4 linked regions of the Homo sapiens genome follow. The protein of the gene in region 2 purifies or fractionates together with the protein of the main gene of each other region. This does not show direct contact. Each region holds a gene or a part of one and is shown on either strand. Other genes may lie near its edges. The genes, in order: LRCH4, ISM2, PEX1 and RSPRY1.

Region 1 (4,498 bases), on a different chromosome or scaffold from region 2:
CACAAACCCTGTTCAAACACCTCCTGTGACATGCAACCAGGGCTGCAGATGTTGAGCGGATTGTGGCCGCCCGGGAGTCCCCTTTCCCCAGCACGGGCCCAGCACTGCACCCTGCATGAAATGCTGCCTGCCCACAGGGAAAGGTGCCTTTTGCTCATCTTAAAAAGGCACAGTCTGGGACCGGCACGGTGGCTCACGCCTGTAATCCCAGCAATTTGGGAGGCCAAGGCGGGTGGATCACAAGGTCAAGAGATTGAGACCACCCTGGCTAACATGGTGAAAACCTGTCTTTACTAAAAATACAAAAAATTAGCCGGGTGTGGTGGCGGACGCCTGTGGTCCCAGCTACTTGGGAGGCTGAGGCAGGAGAATGGCGTGAACCTGGGAGGCGGAGCTTGCAGTGAGCCGAGATTGCGCCACTGCACTCCAGCCTGGGTGACAGAGCGAGACTCTGTCTCAAAAAAAAAAAAAAAAAAGGCACAGTCTGGATTCATGGCGGCCCTAAGCACAGAATAAAACCCACAGCTCCCTAACCCAGCATGAGGAAGGCTTCCACAACCTGGCTCCACCCGCGTTTCCCACCTCACTGCCCACCCCTCCGGGCCCTCAGCTTCTGAGCCTTCCCAGGTGCTGTTTGCTCAGCTGGGAGAACTCCATTTTCCCCATCCATGCATCTTTCAAGGTTCAGCTCAAGCATCACCACCTCCTCGGTGGATCGTTCCAGACATCCCAGATTGGATGGAACTCATTGCTCTTGCCTCTGTCCCCAGGACATCTTGCTTGGATTTCTTTTTATGGCCCAGAGAGAGCCCTTCCTACCCCTTTTGACTGGGAAGGAAGAGGGCAGGTGCAGAAAGGGTCAGGGAGTAGGGAGACAGGGAAAGTGGATGACCACCTCACTCCCTCCTTGTTCTTCAAAACCAAGTTCACACTTGAGCATGGCACAGGCCTTCCTGCCATGCCTGGCTCACCTTCCTAACCCCATGCTTTGCACATGCTGGGTCCTCTGCCTGGATGCAGAAGGCTGGGGAATTCTCCTTCAATGTTCGGCTCCCACTGCGCCTGCGCCTCCGGTGAAGTCTTCCCCAGGACCCCCACGCAGAGTCCAGTGCCACCTCCCTCTAGCCCCCGTCTGGGGAACCCCCTGACGGAACTTCCCTATGACTGTCTCTCCTCAAGAAGCCATTAAATCCCTAAGAGATGGCCCCAGATCTTAGTCACATCACCCGCATCTACCTGATCCCAACACAGGAATCATACACACATCACACACACACACACACACACACACACACACACACACACACAAAACCCACACACACGCAAACAACATACATACACACAGACACAAACAACATGCACAACACACACATAAACATACACAACACATACACACAACCCACACAACACACACCCAAACACACACAACACATACAACACACACAACACAGACCTAAACACACACAACAGACATAAACACAAACACACACACAAAGACACACACAGACACAAACACACATACACATGCACAGACACACACGACATAACACAGACATAAACACAACACACACACAAACACAGACACACAAACATACACACGCACACACACGACATAAATAACACAGACATAAACACAACACACGAACAGACACAGACACACATACACATGCACATAGACACACATGCACAGACACACAGACACATGCACAGACACAACACACACATACACAAACACATACATACACACAGACACACACATGCACGCAGACACAAGACATAACACACACAGACACACACACATGCTGCTGCCTGCTGAACAAAAGGCATGCCTGCTTTGGGGCAGAGGCTATCAGTGCATCACAACAAGCACATTAGATGGGCCACCTGGGCTCTGGCACTGGCCCTGGCATCTCCGGGAGGAGTGGCGGAGCATCCCGACTCAGGTGTTTGAGAGCCCCTGCTGGGGTGAGCAGGGCTGCTGGGTGACCTTGAAGGCCCCTTCTGACCTTGCCAGTCTACCTAGAGCTGATGCACCCACCAGCTCCCCTTCTGTGCCTGTGTCCACGTTTCTAACACAGCTGCTCATCTGCGCCCTGCCAGCATCAGAGGGTTGCTAGGTCAAGATCAAATCAGATCGTTTACAGTTTGTTTTATATACTGCAAAAGCCTGGACAATGAAGGTGTAATTCTCCTCTGAAGATTCCTGGCCTGTAACTTCTTCAAAGCACATACACTGTTATGGACTGAAATGTGTCACCCAAAAAGTCCTCTGCTGAAATCCTAACCCCCAAAGTGATGGGATTAGGAAGCGAGGCCTTAGGGAAGTAATTGAGATCATGAGGGTGGAGCCCTCATCAGTGAGATTTGTGCTCCTTTATCAAAGAGGCCCCAGAGGGCTGTCTCTGCTCTCCGCCATCGGAGAGTACCACAAGGAGCCGGCAGTCTGCAGCCAGGAAAAGCACCCTGCCAGAAGCTGACCATGGAAGCACCCAGATCCTGAACTTCAGCTTCCAGAACTGTGAAAAATGAATGCCTGCCATGTATAAGCTACCCGGTCTGCAGTGTTTTCGTTACCGCAGCCTGAGCCAACTGGGACGCACATACAAACACCTCCTCTCCAGTTCTTCATTCTTCTCACCTTCGGGCAGCGTACTGAGCTGGTTCCTCCGGACATTGAGGTCCCGCAGGGAAGAGAGGCCACACAGTTCCGAGGGCAGGGATTGGAGCTCGTTGCTGCTCACGTCCTGGTATCAGGAAGGCAGTGGGAAGGGGCCATGAGACCAGGCCCAGCAGAACCCACCCTCCCATCTCTGTCTTTGCTCCAGGCCCTCCCCAACCTCCCCCTAGAAGGTCCCGCTGCCTGGCTCAGGGGTCCCTTTCCTGGTCCCGTCCCCATCCTCACAAGCTGTCGCAGGCTTCCCAGGGTGCCGATGTCAGGGGGCAGGGCTCCCAGCTTGTTGTTGCTGACGATGAGGACCCTCAGGGGCAGCTGGCAGATGTAGGGTGGCAGCAGCGACAGCTGGTTTCGGCTGTGGAAGGGAGAAAGGCAGCGGACTGGCTCCCCAGGCATGGCATCCCAGCACTGCCATCCTCTCGGGGTCACTGGGTGGGTCACTCAGTAGTACTTGAGACTGAGAAGCACACGCTCCCACGTGGCCCTGGCTCGGCCTCCCTACCTGAGGTTGAGGTAGGTGAGGGCTGTGAGATTCCCCAAGGCTGGGTTCAGGCATCTCAGGCAATTGTGGTAGAGGCTCAGGCCCTCCAGGGACACCAGCTGGCACGCCGCCTCGGGCACCTCGGGAAACCGGTTCCGGGACAGGTCTGGGGAAAAGGAGGTGTCGGGGAGAGTTGCGGAAAGGCCCAGCCCGGACAGGACCTTCAGTCCCCCCAGAGCCGGCTGCCCACTCCCTCACCTCCACACCTAAAGATTCAAGGCCATCAATGTGGCCTCCCAGGAGAGATAACAAAGCCTTCTGCCAACGGGAGCACATTCCAGGCGTGACCAGAATGGCACAGGGAAGGCAAAGGCCTTAGCGTCACTGGGCTAGAGAAGCCTCAGACTTGGGGGTTGGGGAATGTCAATGGAGGGCTATCCTGGAGAGCAGCTGGAATCTCTAACTCCTGTGGTTCCTGTTCAGAGATGCCAGGTGAGGCGGAGGACCGAAGGTGAGAGGAGGGGTCAGTGCTCATGGGAAAACAGTAAGGCGAGGGGCTGGGGGGCTCCCGGAGGGAAGATGGGAAACCCCTGGGGCAAACCACAGGGAGTGCCCATCCCTCCTCGGGGCCCTTCTTCCCTACTCCAGTGTGTTTTCAACACGGGAAAAACCACAGGTCACTCTATCTTGGTTCTAGAGATAAAGTCCCCGACACCGGACGAGTTTTTCGCCAGCCCCAAGGACCAGCAAGCCAGGTCCAAAGAATCATAAAGTTACTGATTCCCAAGGGCTGGGAGGGAAGGGCAAGAAGACCTGGTTGGAGATGGGAGCTGGAGTTCCCAGGTCCCTCCCATCTGGGCTTCTCTGGCCCAGGGCAGGCATCCTTCCTACCCTCTGCTAGCCCTAGCAGCCCGGCTCTGCTTCCTCTCTTACTGACACAGACTTCAAGAGATCAGCAACTGTGTGAGCATCTCAGGCACGGCGAGGGTGGAGAGTGTGGGAGGGCCTGGGGTCTACAATCGCCCTCTTATCTGGAGCACTGCCTTGCTATGCGGAGGCTGGCAGCCTTGGGATTCCCTGTAGCACGGACCCACTAACGGCTTAGACCTGGAGAAGCCTGCCTTTCTGTTTCCTCGGCCCAGCCTGTCCTGGGAGGGGCCCAGGGCCCGCGAGGCGGAGTCCCAGGCCACAGACCTGGTGAGCTTCTCCAAGGGCCCTTCTCAGGGAAGGGCAGGCCAGCAAAAGCAAGCAGAGGAGAGAAGCCGGGTATATCCCCCAAGGAAATGAGTCTTGTGACAGGAAATGAAGTAGAAACAATCTGTCAGGTTCTGGCTCTGGTAGGC
Region 2 (4,498 bases):
AAGGAGCCTGCTGTGGGTTAAGTAAGTTACAAGCACACCCATGGGAGTTTGACTTGGACCATAAGCAAGGGTTCCTTACACTCCTCCGCTCTGCCGGGGCCCGAAAGTCTTCATCAGGCAGAATTTGAAAATAAAGTGCTTTATTGCTGAGGAGCCCAGAGAGCTTCAGGGCGGCCATCTGGGGGCTAGGACTGAAGTCCCCTAACTTTTGGTGGCTCTTGTGAACAGAGACAGTTGAGACTTCAATATTTCAACCCCATAGAAGGCAAGGAAGTGCAGCCAGGGGAATGGGGAGGCAGGGAAGAGGCATGAGGTGTGCCGGGAGAGCGATTATGTGCATCTCTTCCCAACTCTGAGTTCAGTGCATTCAGTGATGCTGGCAGCATGACATGGGACACTGCTGGGAGAATTTACACCACAGAAGCTGCCCAAATGCAATAAATCAGGGCTTTTTTCCCCTCCCAGAGAACTGGTTTACTATAGACGTGTGACACACCGTCCCGAGCTAGTGCTGAACCCACCCAAGCCTGGCTACTGTGACAAGCTGTCACCTCCCCACTCGGGGGGAGTGCCAACTCCCAGCCCTGCACATCCCTACAATCAGCAGAACAGAGGGGGCTGAGCAAAGGAAAGGGACCAGAATTGGGCAACCCATTCCCTGCCTGGAGTCCACTTCGCCTCAGCTGGGCTGGCTTGCAGCCCAAGACTAAAGTTGGTGTCCAACAGAAAGGCAGCTTGGGGCTACAGATAGCCTCCTGTGCAGTGGCTCGTGGCAGGGAGTGGGGAAAGAAGGGCATGTGCACCACCCAGAGATAAGGAGGGGTGGCCACCCAGGCTGGATGCCCCCCCCGGCAAAGGATGGCTGTGCCCATGAGAAGAGTGGCCCTTCCTCTGCTGGCCATCAGGGTGGAGTAGGAGTGACTCGTGGCAGATCCCGGGAATCGGGATTTTTCTGGAGCTGCTGGCTAACACTTATGTGCAGAGCCAGGGCAGAAGAGCCCAGCTCCCAAGGAGGAGAAAAATGAGTGGCCAGGGTCCCAGCAGGCAGCAGAGGGAGGCCCCGGCAGACACATGCACATATGCACATTTCCAGGGCTCCCAGGGACACCCACCCTGGGCCCTACATACCCTTCAACCTTCTCACTAACCCCACTGAGATATCTGCTTCGGGGTCGCTGGCAGAGGGCACACAGCCTCGGACCAACCTCACTGGGGGAGCCCTTTCCTCACCCTGTCTGGGCAGGGGCGGGTGAGGAAAGTTCTCCCGTGCAACAGCAGCAGCCGCCTGCCCTCTCCCTGCAGTGTCTGTTCAGCAACCCCGTCACTAGTACTCCTTGGCCTCCTGCAACTGTGCTAGGTACTCCTCCTCCAGGGGGTTGTCGGTGCAGGCTCGGCCGTTGTTGGGAGGGAGCACAGCGTGGAGGCGGCTCCAGTCCCCCTTGCACAGGATCCAGGGCGTCGTGTCGAACTTGAAGTGCAGCTTAGGTGAGAAGTCGGTGCTGATGAGGTTGGGCATGCCGGCGCCCTTGCCACGGGTCAGCAGCCGGCTGTCCTCGTCATAGCAGCAGTGCTGGGCGGCCAGTGTGCTGCTCTCCCCAGACAGCATGGAACGCAGGCAGAAGCGCGCCGTGGGCTGGTAGATGTCCAGGCGCTCGCGAGGGCCACTGGCATCCCTCCACCGGAAGCTGCGGCCCTGGTGCTCGTCCTGTAGGCTCACAGGGCTGTCCATGGCCTCCAGTGGGTAGGCACACGGGCAGCTGGGCAGGTCCCGCAGCATCTGGCTCAGATACTTGATTAGGAAGTCGCTCTTGCAGTTCAGCCACTTCTCACAGCTGTCCACATCTGCAAAGGGCCACAAAGTGCAGGAGGGAAGCCAGTGACAGAGCCAGGCCCGTGTGGGGCGGGGACTGATTAAGGGCCAGTGCATGGGGAGAGAAGGCCCAGGCCCCAGCTGGTGCAAAGGCGTGGCTTGGTAGGGCCTTGGGGATGGAGAGAGGCTACCCCACACCATCCAGACAACCTGAAGCAAGAAGCTCTTGCTCAGAACAGACACAGGCCAAGGGGCTGGAGCAATGACCCAGATGTCCTCTGCGGTGCCATATGTCACATGCTGAATGGTGGGAAAGGTTTAGGTGTCATGTGCTGAATGGTGGGAAAGATCCTGAGATCTTGGAAAAGGATCTGGGGTGAGTGGAGACAGGTACAGCAGCTTTTCACCAACTGGTAAGAAGGTTTCATTATTTTAGCCACTGGACCATTCTTGTTCTGAACGCTGCCTTTCTCAGGCAATCTGGCCTGGGGTGAGTCATTTGGCCACTTTGGGCCTCCTGTGGCCCCCTCTGTCTATGCTGCTCTCCTCCCCATCTCCACCTCGGGAAACGTGGCCTTTTTTTAAACTATATTTTTATTTAATTTTAAAATAAATTATATCCCTCAAAACAAAAACCTGAGGCTAAAGTACATCTGACTGAGGTTCTCTTAAATAGAAGAGCTGGGGGGCCAGGCGCGATGGCTCACGCCTGTAATCTCAGCACTTCTAGAGGCCAAGGCAGGAGGTAGGAGCTCAAGACCAGCCTGGCCAACATGGCAAAGTCCCGTCTCTACAAAAAATACAGAAATTAGCCGGGCTTGGTGGCGCATGCCTGTAATCCCAGCTACTCGGGAGGCTGAGACATGAGAATCACTTGAACCCAGGAGGTGGAGGTTGCAGTGAGCTGAGATCACACCACTGCACTCCAGCCTGGGTGACAGAGCAAGACTCTGTCTCACCATTTCACCCGGTCCCCATGGCACAGTGCAGCAGAGGCCAGGAGCCTTCATAAACCAGAAAGAGGTGCCCCCCAGACTCACCAGAGCCCTGCAGCGAGCAGGGAAGGGGAAAACACTGCAGTCACCAGGGAACAGCAGAAAGAAGAAAAATGGCCTTGGGCGGCTGGCCACGTGGGAATGTGCAGAACCTTGCTCCTCACTCCCCAGAATCTGCCTGAGTGGATGCTGTTAACCGGGTCTTGTTTCTCATTTTCCCTTCTGTGCCCTCATCCTAATGGGATGAGCTGTCCAGCCCCGGACACTGGGGGACTGACTTTGATAGTTTGAGGCTCTGCACATCTCCAAGGGACTGGAACCTTCCCCAGGATCCAGATGCTGGGATTTGGGTTTTGACTGGGAGTGAAGGAGGAGCCTGGGAAATGGTAACACAGGAGAGGGGAAGAGACACACATTTCCCAGGCCCACCCCTGTACCAGAAAACAAACTGCTCCTTCCTCTCTGCTCCCAAATCTTTAGGGCCTTCTTTGCAGTGCAGTGCTCACATGGGTTATGCGTGTCTTTCCCCCATGGGACCTGAGCTCCTTGAGGACATGGACCAAGCCTCAGGCTGCTGACATCCCCTGTGCCAGCACCATGGCCAGGCACATGATGCAGGCTCAGTAGGCTCTTGCTGTGCTGAGTGCAACCCTTATCTGCAAGGTTGGTCTCCCTGCCTTCCTTGCAGGGTGCAAGTAAGACCAACAGACACAGACTCAGAGTGTGCAGGTGGACGCCTGCCCCATGCCCAGCTGCCTGGAGGAGCAATGCTGGAGTTCTGCACACTGACCCATTTCTGACTGCACTGCATCCCCCTCTCCAGACAGAGCCTGCCCAGGAGCCTCCCAAGAGTAACCAAGGAATGGAAGTCAGAACGTCCCCACCCTATCCTGCTGCCAGGGAGGATAGGATATGCCCCCACCAGATGATCTCTAAGCTCTGCCGCTCCCATTAAGACCTTCCCAGTAGGAATACCAGTCTGAGAAAGGCCAATGAGCTGGCTCAGAAATGCCAGGGCCCCCTGTTGGAGAAGCAAACCTTCCAGATGGAAGCTGTGCTCTCTGCCTAGTGGAAAGAAGCCAGGTTCCTGCCATGGAATAATACCCCACCCTCCCCTGAGAGCTCGTTCCCCAAACCACCAGGGGCAAGCCTAGCCCCTCACTCACCTTGATCATGCATGTCCGTAGCATTGCGGGCCAGGAGCTTCCACTCCTCACTGGGGAGGCCCAAGGTGTCCTTGTCCTCAGTGCCTTTGGGAGGAAAGGAGGCCAGGCTGGTGGCTCCGCAGGCCACCTCAGTGCCGCTGATGGGGAAACCCCCCCACCTCAATAGGCTCTCAGTGCCCACAGCAGCCAAAATAGGCCTGGGACAAGGCAGGACCACCATGTTTTTGAGCTTCCTGCATCCCATCTCCCAAGCCCACCCACATTCCCAGGGGACCAAGCCTCCAGCCTAAGCCGCACCAGCCACTCCTATGCAGGGGTAGGGGCTCATCTCACCAGGACAGGAGGGCAGGTCACAGGTACGGGTCTCGGTGGCAGTGCAGCCATAGCCACAGGGCCGAGTCCTCTGCTGCTTGCCAGTGCTGCAGTTCCCACTGCAGGGAGACCAGGGACTCCACTCCTTCTGAGGCTCATAGTCTGGGTTAAGACAGGGAGTTGGGGGTGAGTGCATATAGCTCACAGGGCAAATT
Region 3 (4,994 bases), on a different chromosome or scaffold from region 2:
TGCAGTGATTTCTCTCCTAACCAGCCCCACATATTCTTCCTGGTTGGTTGGTTCTTCAGTAAAATAGTCTTGTTTCTTGCTTACACTAATTGGTAATTTGCATTCCTTGTTAAGATTTTCAAGACAGGGCTGGGAGCAAGGAACCAAAGTAGCGCGTGGTTGTGATTACCTTTGGTTTCTTTGAGGTTTCTCTTACCTAGTGGCTTTAAAACATCTTTAGGAGCAGTTCCATTTTATAGTAAACTTAAATTCTGTTATCATGAACAGTTGAGGATAATGAATAATTTGATACAATAATGTAAGAAATTCCTGAAAACAAAGTGTTATCTGTGATACTTTTGCTGCATAGTAAGCACAATGAAGTGTACTGATAATGTTTCAACAGGAAAGTGTTTTGATTAAATGTGGGCAGTATCACTGTTCTACTAGCATTCAACATCTCTTCTAAAAATTAATAGTGGTTCACTGTAATTTTATTGGTACATGTAACATCTGTACATGTGTTTGGTTATCTATATGTTTCCTGGTTTTTTGTACATTTGCTTTATTAATTTAGGCTTTTTTTTTTTTTTTTTTTTGAGACAGTCTCACTCTATCATCCAGACTAGAGTGCAGTGGCACAATTATGGCTCACTGCAGCCTTGACCTCCTGGGCTTAGGTGATTCTTCCACCTCAGCCTCCTGAGTAGCTGGGACTACAGGCACATGCCACCATGCCCAGCTAATTTTTGTATGTTTTGTAGAGACGAGGTTTCACCATATTGCCCAGGCTGGTCTCAAACTCCTGGGCTCAAGCTATCTGCGTGCCTTGACCTCCCAAAGTGCTAGGATTACAGGTGTGAGCCACTATGCCTAGCCTAACTCAGACTTTAAAAATATAAAAGCAATTCATTTTTATTCCCAAGAACAGTAAGGTGGTGGTTTAATTTTAGTCTTTAATTCTGTTTTTAATTTATTCTATTTAGAAATGTCCCAGAAACTTAGTATAACTTTACTTTCTGAAAATGAAGAAACCTGTCCTTGGGCATTAGTGTGTTGGATTTAAGCAACAAAGTTAAAAAAACCTACCCTGTGTTATGGCAATTTTCACTTGATGGTGGTTCTATAACACAGGTATCAGTGAACCTTTATAAAAGATGAACAACTTTTCAGCTTGCTTAATTTCAGTTAATTAACATGTATACTTATCTATGTTAATGTTTTATTGCTTAAAATGTTTAATTTTTATATTTGGTAAACACATAGTTTTTTCTCTCCCCCTCTTCCTTCCATCTTTCATTACTACAATTTACCATGCAGAGCTCACAATGTCTCTCTGCACCAAGCTCCATGACTCAGGATTTGCCTGGAGTTCCTGGGAAAGACCAGTTGTTTTCACAGCCTCCAGTGTTAAGGACAGCTTCACAAGAGGGTTGCCAAGAACTTACACAAGAACAAAGAGATCAACTGAGGGCAGATATCAGTATTATCAAAGGCAGATACCGGAGCCAAAGTGGAGTATGGCTTTTTCCCCCTCATTATAATTGTTAAAACTTCTTAAAAATTGTTTCACCCTTTTGATATATATTTCTTTGACTTATAAACGAGCTATATTTATAAACAAGGGACCAGAACACATTAACTCAGTCATGGTTATGTGCTTCCTTGCTTTCAATGTTTCATTATCTTATAAGGAAGAGAACGTATGGTCTCTTGAAAAAACTGACAATAAGAAGTAACAACTGGACTACCACATTTTTTTTTACATCCTTAATTTAACTCTTCGTCAATTTCTTTTTTTACTTAAGGAGGACGAATCCATGAACCAACCAGGACCAATCAAAACCAGACTGGCTATTAGTCAGTCACATTTAATGACTGCACTTGGTCACACAAGACCATCCATTAGTGAAGATGACTGGAAGAATTTTGCTGAGCTGTAAGTAACAGATTCTGTTTTGGAAGTACAGCTACTATTACAAGTGACATAGTATTACACTTAAACCTTTAAAGTTCGTGTTTAAAATAAAAATATTTTGAATATTTAAAAGCTAATTCAAAAAATATGTGTCGTAGCTATGCATTAAAAAACCCCAAAATGTCAGAAGTACAGAAGTCAAAATTGAGTTTTCATTAACCAGTTCATTTGATTATATTTGAATTATTCATAATGGACTCATTTAATTTTAGTAACTTTGGGCTGGGTGCTGTGGCTCATGCCTGTAATCCCAGCTCTTTGGGAGGCCAAGGCAGGTGGATCACCTGAGGTCAGGAGTTCGAGGCAAGCCTAACCAACACGGGGAAACCCCATCTCTACTAAAAATACAAAAATTAGCCAGGTGTGGTGGCATGTGCCTGTAGTCCCAGCTACTTGGGAGGCTGAGACAGGAGAATTGCTTGAACCCAGGAGGTGGAGGTTGCAGTGAGCCGAGATTGCACCACTGCACTCCATCCAGCCTGGGCCACAGAGCGAGACTGTGTCTCAAAAAAAAAAAAAAAAAATTTAGTAACTTCGAAGAAATAAGAAGGAAAATTAAAAGTTGAAAGTGATTCTAATGTATAGTTTATAAAATTTTGTTATAAAAATACCTGTTTTGCCTTCAAAATAATTTATATTAATATTTTATTGACCTCAAGAACATTTAAATACATTCAGATTTATTCATTTGTGGACCACATTTGTTATACATTGGATTTAAAGGATCCTTGCAATTGAGTTTATGGCCACCTATGCATCTGAGACCCATGGACTGGGAACCATTCTAGGTCAATGATTCAGTGTGATTCAATTTAAGAGATGTTTATTCCTGGTCTTTAGAAGCTGCTACCTTTTGTTATCTAATTTTGCAGTACTTTGAAGTATGTATGTATGTGTACATACGTTAGTGCTATGTATTTATTAAAGAAGAATCAGAAAACAGAGGTAAGGAAAAATAAGGAAACAAATTTCTGTTAAGCCCACCACCTCCCAAAGCATATTTGTTTATATGCTTATATATGTTTTCCTATTATGGTAAGAACAGTCTGTACATATTGCTATATAGCAGTCCCCCTTTATCCACATACATCCTGAAAATTGTTTTACATTTTAAATGTTAACTACTTTATTGTTTTTAAATGTCATTTTATAGTGTAGCTATGCCACAATATCCAATTTTTAGACATTTAAATTGCTCCCAGGCAATGTGGTAATGAACATTCTTGCAGCTGAATATATGCACATATCTAATTGTTTCACTAGGATAGAGGTGGAATTGTATAACAGGGAGCTCACATTTTTTAAGGCTTTTGAAATGTATTGCCAAATTGCCTGCCAGATATACTGCACCATCACTAACATTGTGTGTTGCAGTATTTTTCTAAACTTGGCCCTTTTGATTTTAGAAAAATGATATCAATAATTTACATTTCTTTGATTAAAGTGTAGAAGTTATAATTTTTCATATTATTCATTGTCATTTGTATTTTATCTTTTCTAACTTGTCTCTTCATCCCCTTTGCTCCGTTTTCTATTGGAGTGCAACTTTATTTGTAAGAATTCTTTTTAATTTCTGTGACTGGAATTTTTTTTTCTAGTTTGTTATTTCCCGTTCATTTCTTAAAATATAATTGTGTTTGCCAACAATCCATTATCTTTTGTTTTGTAATGGTAGTATTTATACATATTAAATTATCTCTTTCTTTTTTCAGATATGAAAGCTTTCAAAATCCAAAGAGGAGAAAAAATCAAAGTGGAACAATGTTTCGACCTGGACAGAAAGTAACTTTAGCATAAAATATACTTCTTTTTGATTTGGTTCTGTTAAGTTTTTTGATGGCTTTTCCATATGTTGTAACAGGAAAAAAATGGTGTCTATGAATTTCTTCTTAATTTAACAAATTTGGTTAATTTATAAAATCACAGATTGGTAAATGCTATAATTATGTAATGATCAGGATTGAGATTAATACTGTAGTATAAATTGGGACATTATAACAGATTCCATATTTTATTTCCTAAAATCTAAATTCAGTCTTTAATGAAATAATATTAGCCAAATGGTGGAACTAATTTATTTCTTTTGAGGAAAAGATAATAAAGAATGTAATTAAATTTAAATTTCTTGGAATTCCCAGTTGTATATTCATCACCTTTGTAGCATTTGACAAATTTTATGCTTAGCAGCTTCTTCACTGTTTTGAAATAAAATATCCTATTACCTACTGATACAATTATCTGTTCTTTGTATATCAAAAAATGTGAAATTTACACATAATTCAAATACATTTAATTATCCGCTCAACCAGAAATGAAATCACATCCCTCTACTATACTACATCCAGCTCCAAGCCCAAGATATTTAAATGACATCCATTCCTCTCCTAGTTCCAGTTATGATTTTATCTTGATATTCTCTCATATATGAACTAAATTATAAAGTTAGCCACCATCAATACAATCTGCGTATCTAATATCTTAACTATATAGTAATGGGGTAAGGGAACAGCAAAAAGGAGAACATTAATTAAAATATACAAGTAAGCCTGGGCAACATAGTGAGACCCCATCTCTTAAAAAAAAAATTAGCCATGCATGATGGTATGCCTCTAGTCCCAGCTACTTGGGAGGCTGAGGTAGGAGGATCACTTGCTCCCAGGAGGTTCAAGGTTCTAAACCAGCAAAGCTCAGAATCCCAGGGGATAGAAACAAAGACTTAGTGGATCACTAGTATTAAACTGAGACACGTCACCCTGCATTGCACTTTGTTTCTCAGTTCTTTGATGAAATCACTGAGCTGACATACCTGCCCTCTTTTCACCATAAAGTGAGTTTCATGATCAGAAGCAATGTCTATGGGATAGCCTAACAAACAATGTAAAAACCATTTAGTAAGTTCATGAAGGGTGGTGGTGGTAAAAATTTGGAGAACATACAAAACAAATACAATTCCAAGGTGTGTCCCCTCCAGGAAGGACAAATTGCTGCCTGCTCTGTGATAGAAGAGGATCAGATGTAATCAACCTGCCGTCAGACT
Region 4 (4,094 bases), on a different chromosome or scaffold from region 2:
GTGGGAGGATCCCTTGAGCCCAGGAGTTCAAAATCAGCCTGGGCAACATAGTGAGACCCTTTATCTACAAAAAATAAAAAAAATTTAGCTAGGTGTGGTGGTGCATGCCTGTAGTCCAGCAACATGGGAAGCTGAGGCAAGAGGATCACTTGAACCTGAGAGGTTGAGGATACAGTGAGCCATGACTGTGCCACTGCACTCTAGCCTAGGCGGGGCCGGGGAAGGAAGGGAGGCAAGAAGGAAAGGGAAGGAAAGAAGGAAGGAAGGGAGGAAGGGAGGAAGGGAGGGAGGGAGGGAGGGAAAGAAAGAAAGAAGAAAAAAAAGCAATTAAATAAAGCCTTGATAGAGAATGTGGCGGGGCACAGTGGCTAACGCCTACAATGCCAGCACTTCGGGAGGCTGAGGTGGGCTGACTGCTTGAGCCCAGGAGTTTCAAGACCAGCCTGGGCAACATGATGAAACCCCATCTCTAAAAAAAAATACAAAATTAGCCAGACATGGGGTCATGCACCTATGGTCCCAGCTACATGGGAGGCTGAGGTGGGAGGATCACCTGAGCCTAGGGAGGTTGCAGCTGCAGTGAGCTGTGATTGCTCTACTGCACGCCAGCCTGGGTGACAAAGTGAGACCCTGTTTCAAAATAAATAAATAAAAAGACAGAGGGCTGGGTGCAGTGGCTCATGCCTGTAGTCCCAGCACTTTGGGAGGAGGCCGAGGCAGGTGGATCACCTGAGGTCAGGAGTTCAAGACCAGCCTGGCCAACATGGTGAAATCCCGTTTCTACTAAAAATCCAAAAATCAGCCAGGTGTGGTGGCGGGTGCCTGTAATCCCAGCTACTTGGGAGGCTGAGGCAGGAGAATCGCTTGGACCCGGGAGGCGGAGGTTGCAGTGAGCCAAGATCACATCATTGCACTCCAGCCTGGGCAACAGAGTGAGACTCTTGTCTCAAAGAGGAAAAGAAAAAAAAAGAGGACATAATTCTTCATAATACAAAATAAATTTACATAACAAAATCAATACTGAATAAAACAGACCCCAAATGTATAAAGATGAAACACAATACATCAAATGTTCTTTGTGGTCATTTATCTTGTGCTTAAGCACAAATGATAGTTTCATAAAAGATAAGTATTAACTTACTTTAGTGGGCAATGGACATTCATCTAGTAACAATGTTATAACAGCTGGTCCCAGTGGATCTTCCAGTGGAATAACTCTAATTAAAGACTGGACAACATCCAACCATCCTTCATCTAAGAGCAAATCAAGAAGATTATATGATGGAGTCACTATTTTTAAAATGTGAAAATATGTCACACGAGATCAATTCACATTAAAAGAAAGACTTTTGGTCTATAGATTTTTAGCAGCTAATATTTGGCATGGACATAATCATCAATTGCTAGTCATCGTGGTGGAGTAAAAACATCTTAAGTTACAGGAGTCTGGTGATTTGTGGGTACCTTTATTTGGAAAAAGGTTAAGCTATGGTCTTGTGCTCTCACATTAAAATAGTTTTAAGCATCTTATTTACTACATAGGAGTTAACTGAGAAAATGAAGTATACTCAGCAGTTGGCTTTGTTTTCAGAATGATACTTAGGAAACTAAGGAACAAAAAATATCTTTGGCCAGGGGCTGTGGCTCACACCTGTAATCCCAGCACTTTGGGAGGCTGAGGCAGGAGGATCCCTTGAGCCCAGGAGTACAAGACCAGGCTGGGCCAACATGGTGAAATTCTGTCTCTACAAACAACAGAAAAATTGCTGGGTATTGTGGCATGCGCCTGTGGTGCTAGCTACTTGAGAAGCTGAGGTGGGGTGATCACCTGGGCCAGGGTAGGTTGAGGCTGTAGTTGAGCTGTGATCGTGCCACTGCACTCCAGCCTGGGCAACAGAGTGAGACTCTGTCTCAAAAAAAAAAAAAAATATATATATATATATATATATATAAATAATCTCCTCTCCATTCCAGAACAGTATGGTGAAAGATCCATCAATGCCAAAAAAAAAAAAAAAAAAAAAAAGGTATAATATGCATTGCCTATTATACCTATTCAGGGAAATTTCCATACAGTAAGGGCTTTTTTCATTGTTATGTATGCTGTATTTTTGGAGTCTTTTATCTCAAAACAAAACAAAACAAAAAACAAAAGGTGGCTACTTTTCTTCATTATTATATATTCATTATAAAGTAATGAAAACAAAACTAAAAATACCTGTTTCTGCCATTTCGTGTAATGTTATCATTGAATAGGGAGGTTCCTGATCACTGGAAAAAAAAATTCAAGGCATTAAACCTGAGGAAATAATAAATGACAATTCCAAATAAGAATTCAAACTGGAGGTGTGGAGGTAAAAAGGGACAGAAGAAATGAACACAAATGTAAGGAAAGAGATAGAAGAGACAACCTGAGCTATGACCTGTAAGGATGAATGTATACCATATGTGCTCATTTCCAGTCACTGTCCACAATGACCCACAGACAAAATGGGCAGGTGGATACAGACAAAGACTACTATGTGTCCTGGGGTAAAAGCACAGGAGTAAAACTGGAGATCACAGCCTACTCTCAGCTTTACACTCAGAGGCCCAGTGCCAACTGAGACAAGCCAGGAAGGTCAACATCACCTTCATACTTACCTCAGAGAAATGCCAGGAAGAGAGACGACAATCCCGGTTGAGGACTTATGGAAGCAAGGGCCTATATACGCATCTTCATTTTGAAGTTTTCTTCTGGAAATACCACTACATGCTTAGACTTCATAAAATGGTATTACAAGAAACAAAACCAAACTTAAGGAACTACTTAACATTCTAGACATTGCTCCAAAGTGGCATTATACACCTTAATTCAGTGGTGTGATCCCAGAAATCTTTAAAAAGTCCTTCAGGGGAACTTCAATAATGAGATGTTTTCCATTAAACAATTCTAACTGCTTAAGAACTCACCACTTATTTGTTTACATATTGTGGGTCTCTGTTTTAGTGTGGAAAAAAAAAAAGCCCCAAAAACTATCATCTTAAGTCATTTAATCCAGAGAATAACCTTGTGATATGGGAATTAGTATGGTCATTTCAGGTACTCATTAGGTGCTGCCTGTTTAAACAATATAATTGACTGATGCAAGTATTTCTGAAGAATGATCTGGCAATAATAAAATTAAGTATGCATATACCCAACAGTTGTAGATAAATTTTTACACAGGTCCAAAAATCAATGCATATTTGCGCTGTTCACTGCAGTGCTGTTTGTAAGAACAAAAATTTGGCAGTAACCTAAGTGACCATCACCAGATGAAAATGTAACAAAATATAATACTTTCAGGCATACAAGGGAATACTCTGTAATAGTCAGAAGCAGTTGTAGATTTATATACAGTAACACAGATTTCGATGTTGAGAAAAGTTAAAAACAAAGAGGTTTGTATAACTATGTCACTCTCTTTTAAAATATTGCAAGGGGCCAAGCGTGGGGGCTCACATCTGCAATCCCAGCACTTAAGGAGGCTGAAGCTCGACAATCGCTTGAGTCCAGGTATTTGAGACCAGCCTGGGCAACATGGCAAGACCTGGCTCTACAAAAACTTTTTTAAAAATTAGCCAGGTGCAGTAGCACACGCCTGTAGTCCAAGCTACTTAGGAGGCTGAGGTGGGAGGATGGTTTGAGTCCAGGAGGCTGAGGCTGCAGTGAGTCATGATCACGCCACTGTACGCCAGCCTGGGTGACAAAGTGAGACCCTGTCTCTTTAAAAACAAAACAAAACAAAAAAACTCTCTCTCTCAAAGTCTATTCTGCACCCATTTTTCCAATGAGCTTAAATTAACATTGTTTGTGGTTTACTTCCTTATTTGGGAAGGATAACTTTTATTACAATTTGGTACAAGGGATTTAAAAAATTTTTTTTGATTAATTAATTTTTGAGACAGGGTCTTGCTCTATTGCCCAGGCTGGAGTGCAGTGGTGTGATCATAGCTCACTGCAGCTGGAAACTCCTGGACTCTAGCAGTACTCCGGTCTTAGAATCCTGAGTAGCTGGGATCACAGGCAAGTGCCACTGTACCTGGATAATTTTTAAATTTTTTTTGCAGAG

Evidence for each region.
Region 1: the proteins of ISM2 (region 2) and LRCH4 purify together in Homo sapiens (affinity purification with mass spectrometry; one large-scale study listed by BioGRID and IntAct). This does not show direct contact.
Region 3: the proteins of ISM2 (region 2) and PEX1 purify together in Homo sapiens (affinity purification with mass spectrometry; one large-scale study listed by BioGRID and IntAct). This does not show direct contact.
Region 4: the proteins of ISM2 (region 2) and RSPRY1 purify together in Homo sapiens (affinity purification with mass spectrometry; one large-scale study listed by BioGRID and IntAct). This does not show direct contact.

What each region holds. Positions count from the first base shown.
Region 1 is NC_000007.14:100,579,139-100,583,636, forward strand, and holds part of LRCH4 (leucine-rich repeat and calponin homology domain-containing protein 4), read right to left. Parts: intron 3,322-4,498; coding exon 3,177-3,321; intron 3,030-3,176; coding exon 2,903-3,029; intron 2,745-2,902; coding exon 2,639-2,744; intron 1-2,638. UniProt on the Homo sapiens protein: Accessory protein that regulates signaling by multiple TLRs, acting as a broad-spanning regulator of the innate immune response. In macrophages, binds LPS and promotes proper docking of LPS in lipid raft membrane. May be required for lipid raft maintenance.
Region 2 is NC_000014.9:77,474,271-77,478,768, forward strand, and holds the end of ISM2 (isthmin-2 isoform 1 precursor), read right to left. Parts: intron 4,446-4,498; coding exon 4,305-4,445; intron 4,056-4,304; coding exon 3,972-4,055; intron 1,843-3,971; coding exon 1,325-1,842; 3' UTR 124-1,324; downstream 1-123.
Region 3 is NC_000007.14:92,486,217-92,491,210, reverse strand, and holds the end of PEX1 (peroxisomal ATPase PEX1), read left to right. Parts: intron 1-1,299; coding exon 1,300-1,497; intron 1,498-1,787; coding exon 1,788-1,918; intron 1,919-3,669; coding exon 3,670-3,754; 3' UTR 3,755-4,186; downstream 4,187-4,994. UniProt on the Homo sapiens protein: Component of the PEX1-PEX6 AAA ATPase complex, a protein dislocase complex that mediates the ATP-dependent extraction of the PEX5 receptor from peroxisomal membranes, an essential step for PEX5 recycling.
Region 4 is NC_000016.10:57,206,235-57,210,328, reverse strand, and holds part of RSPRY1 (RING finger and SPRY domain-containing protein 1 isoform 1 precursor), read right to left. Parts: intron 2,737-4,094; coding exon of another isoform or gene 2,644-2,736; intron 2,272-2,643; coding exon 2,219-2,271; intron 1,255-2,218; coding exon 1,142-1,254; intron 1-1,141.